2 separate regions of the Homo sapiens genome follow, and region 1 is linked to region 2. Evidence: fine-mapped expression QTL. A gene starts in region 2. The other region holds a variant in brackets. All regions are shown on one strand. Distances are between the middles of the regions. Region 1 overlaps RAET1E-AS1 (RAET1E antisense RNA 1). Region 2 holds the start of MTHFD1L (methylenetetrahydrofolate dehydrogenase (NADP+ dependent) 1 like).

The links. PIP is the estimated chance that this variant, and not a neighbour inherited with it, causes the effect.
Region 1: its variant is the best candidate, but not a certain one, in a credible set for the expression of MTHFD1L in tibial nerve (GTEx, PIP 0.80).

Annotation. Positions count from the first base shown.
Region 1 is chr6:149,898,086-149,903,457 of GRCh38, reverse strand. All of the region lies in intron 1 of RAET1E-AS1 (RAET1E antisense RNA 1), which reads right to left. It overlaps RAET1E (retinoic acid early transcript 1E), which reads left to right and starts at 5,345. Exons shown (of 6, transcript NM_001394057.1): 1 at 5,345-5,372. RefSeq lists a silencer at 4,791-5,085. The variant A/CA (reference allele first, on the strand shown) is at 2,620.
Region 2 is chr6:150,863,257-150,868,628 of GRCh38, reverse strand. MTHFD1L (methylenetetrahydrofolate dehydrogenase (NADP+ dependent) 1 like) reads right to left here and starts at 2,927. Exons shown (of 28, transcript NM_015440.5): 1 at 2,580-2,927. The coding sequence starts at 2,806. RefSeq lists silencers at 1,756-1,905, 2,026-2,225, 2,386-2,795, 2,856-3,085.

The DNA.
Region 1 (5,372 bases), 970 kb after region 2:
GGGATTCACACCGGCATCCTCTGGGATTGGCGGGAGTGGGTGGGGGTGGCAGGTGATTATTCTTTGCAAAACACATGCCATATAATTTATGTATATATCATTTTTATACCACAAAGATGGGGGAAGAAGCAGAGCAATATTGGAGCAGAGATTTTGCATCCTGTTAAAATTAAGTTGGTTTTAATATGATCTAGGTTGTGGTAAATTAAGATATTAATTGGAATCCCCTGAAATGACTAACAAAATAACTTTTTTAAATAAAAAATGAAAAAGAGACAATAAAGGAAGTAAAATGATGCAGTAGAAAATATCTGTTTAACACAAAACAAAGCAATAGTGGTGGAAAAGATGAAGAAAATGACATAGTGCATATGGAAAACTAAGAAAAAGGTGGCAGACGTAAATTCTGTTCCACCTTAGCAGTAATTCCCTTACATGTCAAAGTGATAAACATTCAAAAGAAAAAGCAAAGATTCTCAGAATGCATTTAAAAAATGATCTAAAGATACAATGTAGATCCCAAGATACAAGTAGTTTAAAAGTAGACATATGGAAAAGATAAAACACATCCATAGTAAACAAAGACAACTGAAATTGCTATTAATAATATCAGGCAGAATCATCTTTAAGACAAACAATTTTATAAACATTCTAAGAACCAATCAACGAAAGGGAAACTCACAAGGAAAATTAGAAAATACTTTGAGATGAATGGAAACAAATACACAGCATACTATGATTTATAAGAAGCAGATAAAGCAGCACTTAAAGGAAAACTTACTGCTGTAAATGCCAGTATACTGAGAAAGAACAGGACAAAGAAAGGATTATGTCAAATTAATAACTTGATATTTCACTTTAAGAAACTCAAAGAGCAAAGCGACCTAAGCCCCAAATAACAAATGGAAGGAAATAAAAATTGGAGTGTAAATAAATGAAATAAAGAATAGAAAAACATTGGCAAACTCAATAAAACCAAAAGTTGGTTCTTTGAAAAGATCAACCAAATTGTCAAACCTTAACCTAGAATGACTAGGTAAATGGTGGAGGGATAAAACTCAAATGACTAATACCAGGAATGAAAGAAGAAACATCCCTACCAACTTTACAGAAACAAAAAGGATTATAAGGGAATACTATGTACAACCGTATGTCAATGAATTCAAGAACCTGGATGAAATGAACATCTTTCTTTTCCATTTATTTTCCAGTTATTATTGAGCCACTTTTGATTGTATCCTCCCTTCTCTACCAGAAAGGACAAAGGTTGATCACCAAAGACAATTTCAGACTCTTGTCAGGCCTAGGGACAGCAGCAGAGGCACCACAAGCTTCTCTGATGCCATAGATTGGCCTTCCCATGATCTGCCACTTCTCTAGACGTTTATTGTTTTCTGTTGAAGATGCTGGAGCTCTAAGCCAGCACTTTAAGGATTACTTGTTTTCTCCAGGTGTTTCCTGTGTATATACAAGAGACGATAGATAGATAGATAGATAGATAGATAGATAGATAGATAGATAGATAGATAGATAGATAGATAATAAACTCCTGTTTGTTTGTTTTTTTCATGAAAATCATTTTTCCTCCCCGCCGTACAAAGGCTTGTCAAAGGCACACTAATGAGCAGCTGATTGGGCTCCTCCAACCGATGAACTCTGTGTTTGGCTCTGTTTGGAAACACACTGAGGAGTCCAGCCTCTTTGGCTGCCACAGGATACATTTCCAGAAACACCTGTTAGGCGTCTGTGGATGAGGAAGGCATCAGGCCTTCCTACCTGAAGCCTTATTGACTCCTGCAAGTGCTAAAGAAACCCCTGGGGACAGGCTAGGCTGCCTGTTCCTACTGGATTTTAGGCCTGGAGACTTCTGGTGGGGGCAGCCCAGGCAGGGAAATCAGGAGCTGTGGACAGGGAGTGGAGGAGATCAGGAGGGGATGGCAAGACCCCCAGCCTGACCCCAGTCCCCAGTGCCCTCTAGCAGCAGAAATAGGAAAAGGAGGTTGAGGGCAGGCAATACTGCAACCTCCTGTGCTGAGCATACAGATAGGTCCAGCCTGGTGGCCCCGCACCTGCAGATTCAAGGCAGCCCTGCCCTGCACTAACCCTGCACCTCCCAGGCCCACTGCTCTCCCACTGTGACCCCATCCGGAGACTGGTCTATCTAAAGACCAGGACATTGACCAGCAGCCCAGTGCTCTGCTCCACGGCCTCTGTCAGGCAGGACGGAGCTGGAGCCCAGGCAGAGATAAGGACAGGGGAAGATGGCCCTTGTCAGCCAGGGATGTTCTGTCCTGCTGGGCATGCGGCCTCTCTCACAGAGAACCTACGTGATCTTGCTTCCCCCACTTTCTTATCTCATAGGCCCTACATATTTGCCAGAAACACCTGCATTCCTAACTCTTTGCCAGATGTCAGGGGCCAGCCGCCAGGGGAACTGCGTGGCAGAGCCCCTGTGCCAATGGCCAGAGAAATTCAGGAGTTCCCAGAAAACAGAGGGTGCTGGAAATCCAGGTGGGAGAGCTGCTCCTTGTGCCAAGATTTTCCTCAGAGGCTCCTTCTCCGGTGCCCTGAGCAGGGCCAAGCCTGGCGAATATTAGAATTTCTGCTGGGCTGAGAAAA[A/CA]ACAGCAAAAGGAGAAGCAGTCTGGGGGGTGACTTGGAGGTGGAAACTGGGTGCGGTCAGAAAAGTGAGTGGAGCCTGGAGGCCAATGAGCACCCCACCCTGGCAAGTCACAGCAGGACAGGGCAGGGGACCAGGCATAGAATTGGGCCAGTTGTAACCTGCACAACCTGGAAAAGGATTTGTATTTGTATTTCATGTACCCATTGGGTAAGGTGGCATTTATCTCCAGCTTCCTTGAGGTGAGCTCAGTTTAGGAAGTTTCTTTTCGACTGAACTGTGTCAGGAATCTCGCCAATGCCTGATGCTGCCCACCACATCTCTTTTGCTGCTGCTGTGGCTGGAACCTGCCTGGGAGGCACCGGCTGTGAAGGCTGGAGACCCAGGGAGGCTGCCCTGACACCTCTCCTTGTTCCCTGAGCCAGGGGGCCCATCTGAGCCCCTTCACCCCTGGGGAGCTGTTTTCTGTGCCTTGTATGAGGTTTTTGTCTTCACAGAAATGGCATTCTAGTAAGAGATAGAAATTTTAAATGGATAGATATGTAAATTATATGGTATGTGTGTTGGGCAGAAGAATTCCCTCTCCAATCCTCAGGATGGCAGATCCAGTCCCTGGAACCTCTGTGTTGGGGTACATGGAAAGGGCGGTGAAAGCTGTGGATGGAGCTGAGGTGGCTAATCAGCTGCCCTGGGAAAACCAGCCATGGAGGGGTAGTGTTCTCATGTAAACCAGGACTCAGCCTGGTGGAGCTGCCTTTGAAGATGAGGAAATGGGGTCCTGAGCCATGGACGTGGGCAGTTGAGCAGCTGGAAAAGGCAAGGAGGAGACAGGTTCTCCCCGAGAGCCTCCCAAAGGAACACAGCCCTGACAGCACAGTGATGATAGCTCCGTGAGACTATTCAGACTTCTGAGCTCCAGAATGGTAAAAGAATGAATGTATGTTGTTTTAAGGCACTAAATTTGCAGTAATTTGTTGCAACCACAATTAAAAGTTAATAAGGTTTGTTTGATTGTTTGTTTATAGGGATAGAGTCTCATTCTGTTGCCCAGGCTGCAAAGCAGTGGCGTGATCTCGGCTCACTGCAACCTCCGCCTCCTGGCTTCAAGTGATTCTCCTGACTCAATAAGCTGAGTAGATGGGATTACAGGCACTGGCCACCACACCCGGCTAATTCTCTTATTTTTAGTAGAGACAGGGTTTCAACATGTTGGCCAGGCTGGTCTCAAACTCAACCTCAGGTGATCCAGCCTCCCTGACCTCCCAAAATGCTGGGATTACAGGTGTAAGCCACTGTGCGCGGCTTACTAAGGTATGTTTTAAAGTGGTCATTGCTTTAGGGGAACAAGTTCAGGTGAAGAAGGTCCAGGATGGCCTGGGCAGGCAGAGGTCTCCCATTATGAAATAGAGGCCTTTACATTTAACAGTGGTTAAGATGAAAAATCACGTTACATGAATCATACCACAATTTTAAAAAAAGAAAGAAAGAAAGAAATACAAGGGTTCCAAATGCGAGGGGCAGGGAGAACCAGGCGTGGAAGGGTGTGCCACCTGGGAGCAGGAGTGGGAGTGAGCCGGGCAGATGCCTGAAGGGCAGTCCATGCTGAAGGGAGGGCAATGCAAAGTCCCAAGGCACGGGGACATCTGCAGGGCTCTGAAGACCAGCAAGGAGGCCGAGGGTGGAGGTCGGAACTGAGCGAGTGAGGGGGCATAATGGACAGCTGGCCAGACTGTGCAGGGCTCTCTAGGCATCTGTAGTGACTTTGGTTTTACTGAGAGAAAAAGGGCACTTTTGGAGAATTGGAGCAGAGGGGGGCGTGAGTGATGAGGTTCTGAAGATCACTCTGGCTGCGCTGTAGCCATTTGGGAGGTGGGGACAGGCACGGAGAACCAAGTAGGGCAGCACTGCAATCACCCTGGCCAGGAGGACGGTGGCCTAGAACCAGGGTCGAGTACTAGATGACAGTGTGGTCAAATCATAGATATTTTATTTCTAGTCCAAAGAAGAGATAAGAAAGAGGTCGAGCAAATAGGTGATTTTTTTTTTAAATTATTCACAGCCTTATAACATAACCTCTAAATCTTCAGTAAAGTTGGCTACATTCACAAGTAGCTGGTGTCACTTTGGTGGGGGCTTTGTAAGGAAGTGGGCAGGGTGTCTTTTAAGGAAGACTCAGGAGAAGTGCTGGTCTTCCAGTTGCAGAGGGGAATGGAGTTGCAAGAAGAAAACAGCGAGGTTCAGTGACACACAGTGCGAACACGAGCTCAGGGGGCAGGAGCTCCAGGTCTCAAGAGGGCAGGACGATAATGCAGTGTTTGCACAGAAACCAAGCAATAGAGGGAGCCAGCACCCACCAGAAATGAGGTAGGGCCGCTGTCACAGCTATGCCAGGACCTGCAGAAGCCTAAACCCTGAAAAAAGGTGGGGGCCCCCACCTACATATCAAGGAAAACATATGTATGCCATCACATGCTGGTCTCCAACAACTGCTAAAATTACATTAAATCCTTTCTAGAATTTCGTGGCTGGGACTTGAGTCTGGTCTTGGTCCTTCTACTGATGGTGAATCCAGTACTGAATTGGATCCAATTCTGGACGAGTTACCCTGTCCTAGAATCACTCACACGTGACAGTTGACAGGTGGCCCCACCCGGTTTGCATGGTGGACGGGTGTTCTGCTAGGCCGGCCTCTCCACACCCAGAGAGACTGAACTGGTTTCTGCTCCTCAGAGAGTTTGCACAGAGACTCTGAGGAA
Region 2 (5,372 bases):
ATGGTAGCTCACACCTGTAATCCCAGCACTTTGGGAGGCTGAGGCAGGCAGATCACGAGGTCAGGAGTTTGAGACCAGCCTGGCCAACATGGTGAAACCCCGTCTCTACTAAAAACACAAAATAAGCCAGGCGTGGTAGTGCGAGCCTGTAATCCCAGCTACTCAGGAGGCTGAGGCAGGGGAATCGCTTGAACCCGGGAGGCGGAGGTTGCAGTGAGCCGAGATCCCGCCACTGCACTCCAACCTGTGCGACAGAGTGAGATTCCGTCTCAAAAAAAAAAAAAAAAAATTAATAGCCACCATTTGTTGAGGGACTTGTCTTGTATGTGACAGTCCTGGGCTATGTATTTTGCATGTGTCCTCTCACATAATTGTTTCCATAACCCCTTGAGGTAAGTACTGTTACTCCTCCCATTTTCCTGAAGGAATTGAGTTTGGAGAACCCAGTGCAGGCCCTAAAGCCCCCTACTAACCTCTTTACTCATCTCTAAGGCAGTCATGGCTTTAAACCTAAAAGTATGCATGAATAGCCCAGGCGCGGTGGGTCACGCCTGTAATCCCAACACTTTGGGAGGCCAAGGCAGTCGGATCACCTGAGGTCAGGAGTTCAAGACCAGCCTGGCCAACATGGTGAGACATCCTGTCTTTACTCAAAATACAAAAATTAGCCGGGCGTGGTGGCGTGCTCCTGTAATCCCAGCTACTCGGGAGGCTGAGGCAGGGGAATCGCCTGAACCTGGGAGGCAGAGGTTGCAGGGAGCCAAGATCGTGCCATTGCACTCCAGCCTGAGTGACAGAGCAAGACTCCGTCTCAAAAAAAAAAAAAAAAAAAAAGAATATGTATGAATAAAACCCACAGATGACCCCAAATCTTGAAGCATTCCTTCTGTAACCATTTCACAAGTGCTTATTACATGCTGGGCACTCTCTCCAGGACCTAGGATATAGCACCGAAGAGACGGCTGTCTCATGAAGCTCATATTCCAGGTGGGTGAGACAGACAAGAAATGAGCAAAGAAGGAAGTTTCAGGTAATAATCAGTTTACCTAGAAAATAAAACAGCATGACGGGAGAAGTTTTTTTGCCGCCTATCCTGGCTTCAGACTCTAACCGGTAAGATGAGTCTCAGCAACGTGCAGGTTAAAACCTAATGACCTGACGTGTAATTAATCCCAGCGCTTTTGGGGGCAGGGATGATGGCTTGCGCCCAGGAGTTCCAGACCAGCCTGGTAACAGAGTGGTGCTCTGTCTCTATGAAAATAAAATAAAATAATCCGGGCATGGTAGCGCACACCTGTGGTCCCAGTTACACTGGAGGCTAAGGCGGGAGAATCGCTTGAGCCCAGGAGGCGGAGGCTGCATTGAGCCGAGATGGCACCACTGAACTCCAGCCTGAGCAACAAAGCGAGACTCCATTTCTAAAAGAAAAAGAAGACAGAGAACAAGAAAAACTAAATAAATGGCCCCTTAAAATCATCCGCCACATAATAAAGAGCCTAGGAAACGTATTTTACTGAGATGGGAGAAGGGGAGTGGGGAGGAAAATGGGAGAGCAGAGGGAGGAAGGAAAGGCAGAGAGAAAGGCAAGCAGGCAATGACTAAGAAAGAAGGCTAGAAGGAAAGGGAAGAGGATGTGAATGGAGGAGGTGGTCCGCTGGCCGGGGAAACCGCATCCTGGAACTCGTTCCTAATCCCAGTTCCGAGGGAGGCGGAAGGGGCTTTCTTGCCACCCCCAAGTTGTCCCGAAGGGCTCGCCCTGCAAGGCCCGAGACCCGTGCGCCCCTCTGGGCGAGGGCGGGGAAGGCTGGAGCCCAGGGGCGGGGACCGGGACGGGAAAGGCCGGGCCCGGGGCTCCCAGTTCGCTCTGGGCCCGCAGAAAACCCTGCAAACCCAGCTGCGCGGGGACTCCGTGGGCGCTGCGCGGCGAAGCTGGAAACCAGCGCTGAGACCTCTCGGATTCCCCCCGGCGGCTGTCCCGGGGGCCCGGCTCCACCTTTGCCGTTCCGGGAAAAGCGGACGTCAGCCACAGACCCCAGCCCAGCAGGAGGGGCCGCGCGCGGGGAAGGGCGCACAACACCAGGGAGCTTCGCGCGGGCGGCGCTGGGCCCGAGCCCGCCTCTCCCGAGCTCCGCTTGCCCTTCCCGAACCCCGGGCCAGCCGGCGCGCCGAGCCGCAGCCCCGCCCTCCTCCTGCTCCTCGCCCCCTCCCCTGGTTTCCGCCCCAGCCGCACCGCCCCTTTACCGTCTGGGTCGCGCCCGGCGCGATTGCATCAGAGCCGGCGGCCGGCTGCGCACGTGGAGCCGGGCGTGCGGTCCATGCCGCTAGGCGCCCATTGGAGATGCCCACGCCCACCTGCGCTGCGGGCCCGGTCGGGTACTGGATCCCCCGTTCTCCGCCAGCGCTCCCGGCCGCAGTGCCCAAGCCCGCGTTTCCCGACACACCGCCCGGCCCCCCTAATGAGTTGGCACCAAACACTCGCAGCCCCGCGCCCCGCTCCCCACGGCGGTCCCGGGCGCTCCGCCCCTGGGTCGGGGCCACAGCCGCTGGAGACCTGGGCCAGGGCCAGACCCGACACTCACCTGACGATGGAGTCCCGCGCCGCGGGCGTTCGGCCGCCGGGGCTGCAGCTGCTCCGGGCCTGGCCATCCTGCGGCCGCCGCTGTCCAAGCAGGCCCTCCCGGCCACCGCCGCCGCCTCCGCCGCCGCCGCTGCTAGCGCGACAGGGCACACGGAGGCGGCGCGGAGGGCCCGGGGGCTGGGGCGGGCGGCGGAGCTGGCGCAGGACGAGCGGCAGACGCGTGCCCATGGCGCGGGACGGCTGGTTCTCAGGGGACACGGAGCTGCGGCTGCCGAGGGCGGCGGGGCGCGTGCCAGGGGAGCAGGCGGCGGCGGCGGCGGCGGCGGCGGGAAGGACCTGGCGCTTCCTCCTCGTCCCAGGGGCCCCTAGGGGGCACTGCACCCGGCGGCCGTGACGTGCGGAGGGCGGGGGCCTGCGAGCCGCCGGCCGGGATGTCACGGCTTTGGGCACTTTGGTTTGGTAAGCTGTACCAGACAGAGGGTGGGGTGCGGAGTGGGACTCAGACTCTGCCCTGAGACTCAGCCTCCCTCCCTTCAGCCTGAAAGGCCGAGGTGACCCTTGGTACTCAGGGCGCCAAGTTTAGACGGGAGGGCTTGGATTTGCTGTACTGGAGGTGGCCTGAGGATAAGAGGCTTTGTAACCTTAGGCAGGGGCACTTAATCTCGGTGAGCTTGCGGGGTCTTCGTCAGTACCACAGAGATAACAATGCTCTTCTTAAAACCTTAAAAGGATTTTATAGTCCTGATTGGTTCCAGGGCCCCTCCAGGGGACCCACGTCCACAAATGCTCAAGTCCTTGGTAAAAAAAAAAAAAAAAAAAAGTGTTTGCATATCACCTACACACATCTTCCCATCATAAACTTTAGGTCATCTCCACATTCCCTAAGTCCTCACCTAACATCGTGGAGGGGTTCTTGGAAACTGAAACTTTAAGCCAAATGACTGTAAGGAAAACAGTTTGACCACAGGCTAATTGATATGAGTGAAGTTCCTACAACATATCTGTGGTCACAAAATCGCCCCTAAACTTCGAAATAAAGACCAAAACACTTCTAATATTAAACATTGAAATAAGTGTGAGCCATGCATATATTTAAGGAAGATTTTTAGCTCACGCCTATAATCCCAACACTTTGGGAGGCTGAGGTGGGCAGATCACGTGAGGCCAGAAGTTCAAGACCAGCTTGGCCAACATGGCGAAACCCCATCTCTACTAAAAATACAGAAAATTGGCTGGGTGTGGTGGCGCGTGCCTGTATTCTCAGCTACTCGGGAGGCTGAGGCAGGAGAATCGCTTGAACCCAGGAGCCAGAGGTTGCAGTGAGCCGAGATCATGTCACTGTACTCTAGCCTGGGCGACAGAGCACAGCTCTGTCTCAAAGAAAAAGTTTTTTTTAAACACCCCCTATCCCTCTCGCTTAGAGAAAAATAAAGATTAATAAAAGTGAGATCATTTTTACCGGCTTATTCCAACTCAGGGCACCTCACAGGGTGTGCTCACACACACCCACACTCACACTCGGATCGTGTAGATGCACCAATTTACCTAAAGTGCACTGCACGGCTTTGGGATGTGACAGGACACCAGAAGACAGAGAAAATCCACACAGACATGGATAAAACGTGACAGTGGACCCAGCCAGAAATCTATTTTTTTCTCATCATTATAAGAAAACCACTGAGCAAAATGATGAAATGATGTTATTCCAGGACCTGCTGTACTTATAATACCTAATACAATGTAAATGCTATGTAAATAGATATTACACTGTACTTTTTTATTTCTATGATTTTTTATTATTTTTTGTTATTGTAATTTTTTCAAATACTTTCAGTCCCAGGTTGATTGAGGATACAGAGGGCTGACCATAAGTTCCAAGTAAAGTGGATATCAGATTGTAATTTTATGATTCCCAAGTGAGGGTCAGATTGTTAACTTTATATTTTTACAACCTTATACCCTTATAATTCCCAGATAAGGTGGGAATAAAACTAGTCCAAGTTACAGAGATTGGTTTTCCATTAGCCGAGCACCATACTGGGACAGTGCTGGAAGGACCCTTCATACAATCCTAACAAAAGTAGGGAATTGAGAGCTATTGTCTTGACCTTCAACCTTTGGAAACTGGGGTCCAGAGAGGCCCATCTGTTTACTGGCAGAGCTGGGAGATTGAGGCTGCAATGAGCTGTGAGCGTGTCACTGCACTCCAACCTGGGCAACAGAGTGAGACCCTGTCTCAAAAAAAAAAAAAAAAAAAAAAAAAGGCTTCCTGAAGAAAGTGAAAGAGGTGGCAGCTGGAGGCAAGACCTTAGCAGTTGAGCTAAGGGAAGGTCAGCTAAGGGAAGGAAATGAGCTAAGGGAAGGTCAGTGTTGGAAAAGTGGGAATGTTGGAAATGAAGGAACAACATGAGCAAAAGTCTGGAGTAGAAGAGAGCATGATGAATTTGAGATACTGAGAGCTGTTCAGTCGAGTGGGGAGGGCAGGGGAAAATGAGTAGCAATGGCAAGTAAGAAGAGCTGGGCAGGGCCACGTTGTGGCAGGTCACGAAACCATTGCATTGCATTTTTTTTTTTTTTTTGAGATGGAATCTAGCTTTATTGCCCAGGCTGGAGTGCAGTGGCGCAATCTTGTCTCACTGCAGCCTCCACTCCCAGGTTCAAGCAATTCTCCTGCCTCAGCCTCCCAAGTAGCAGGGATTACAGCCAACCACCATGCCTGGCTAATTTTGTGTTTTTGGCAGAGACAGGGTTTCGCCATCTTGGCCAAGCTGCTCTCAAATTCCTGACCTCAGGT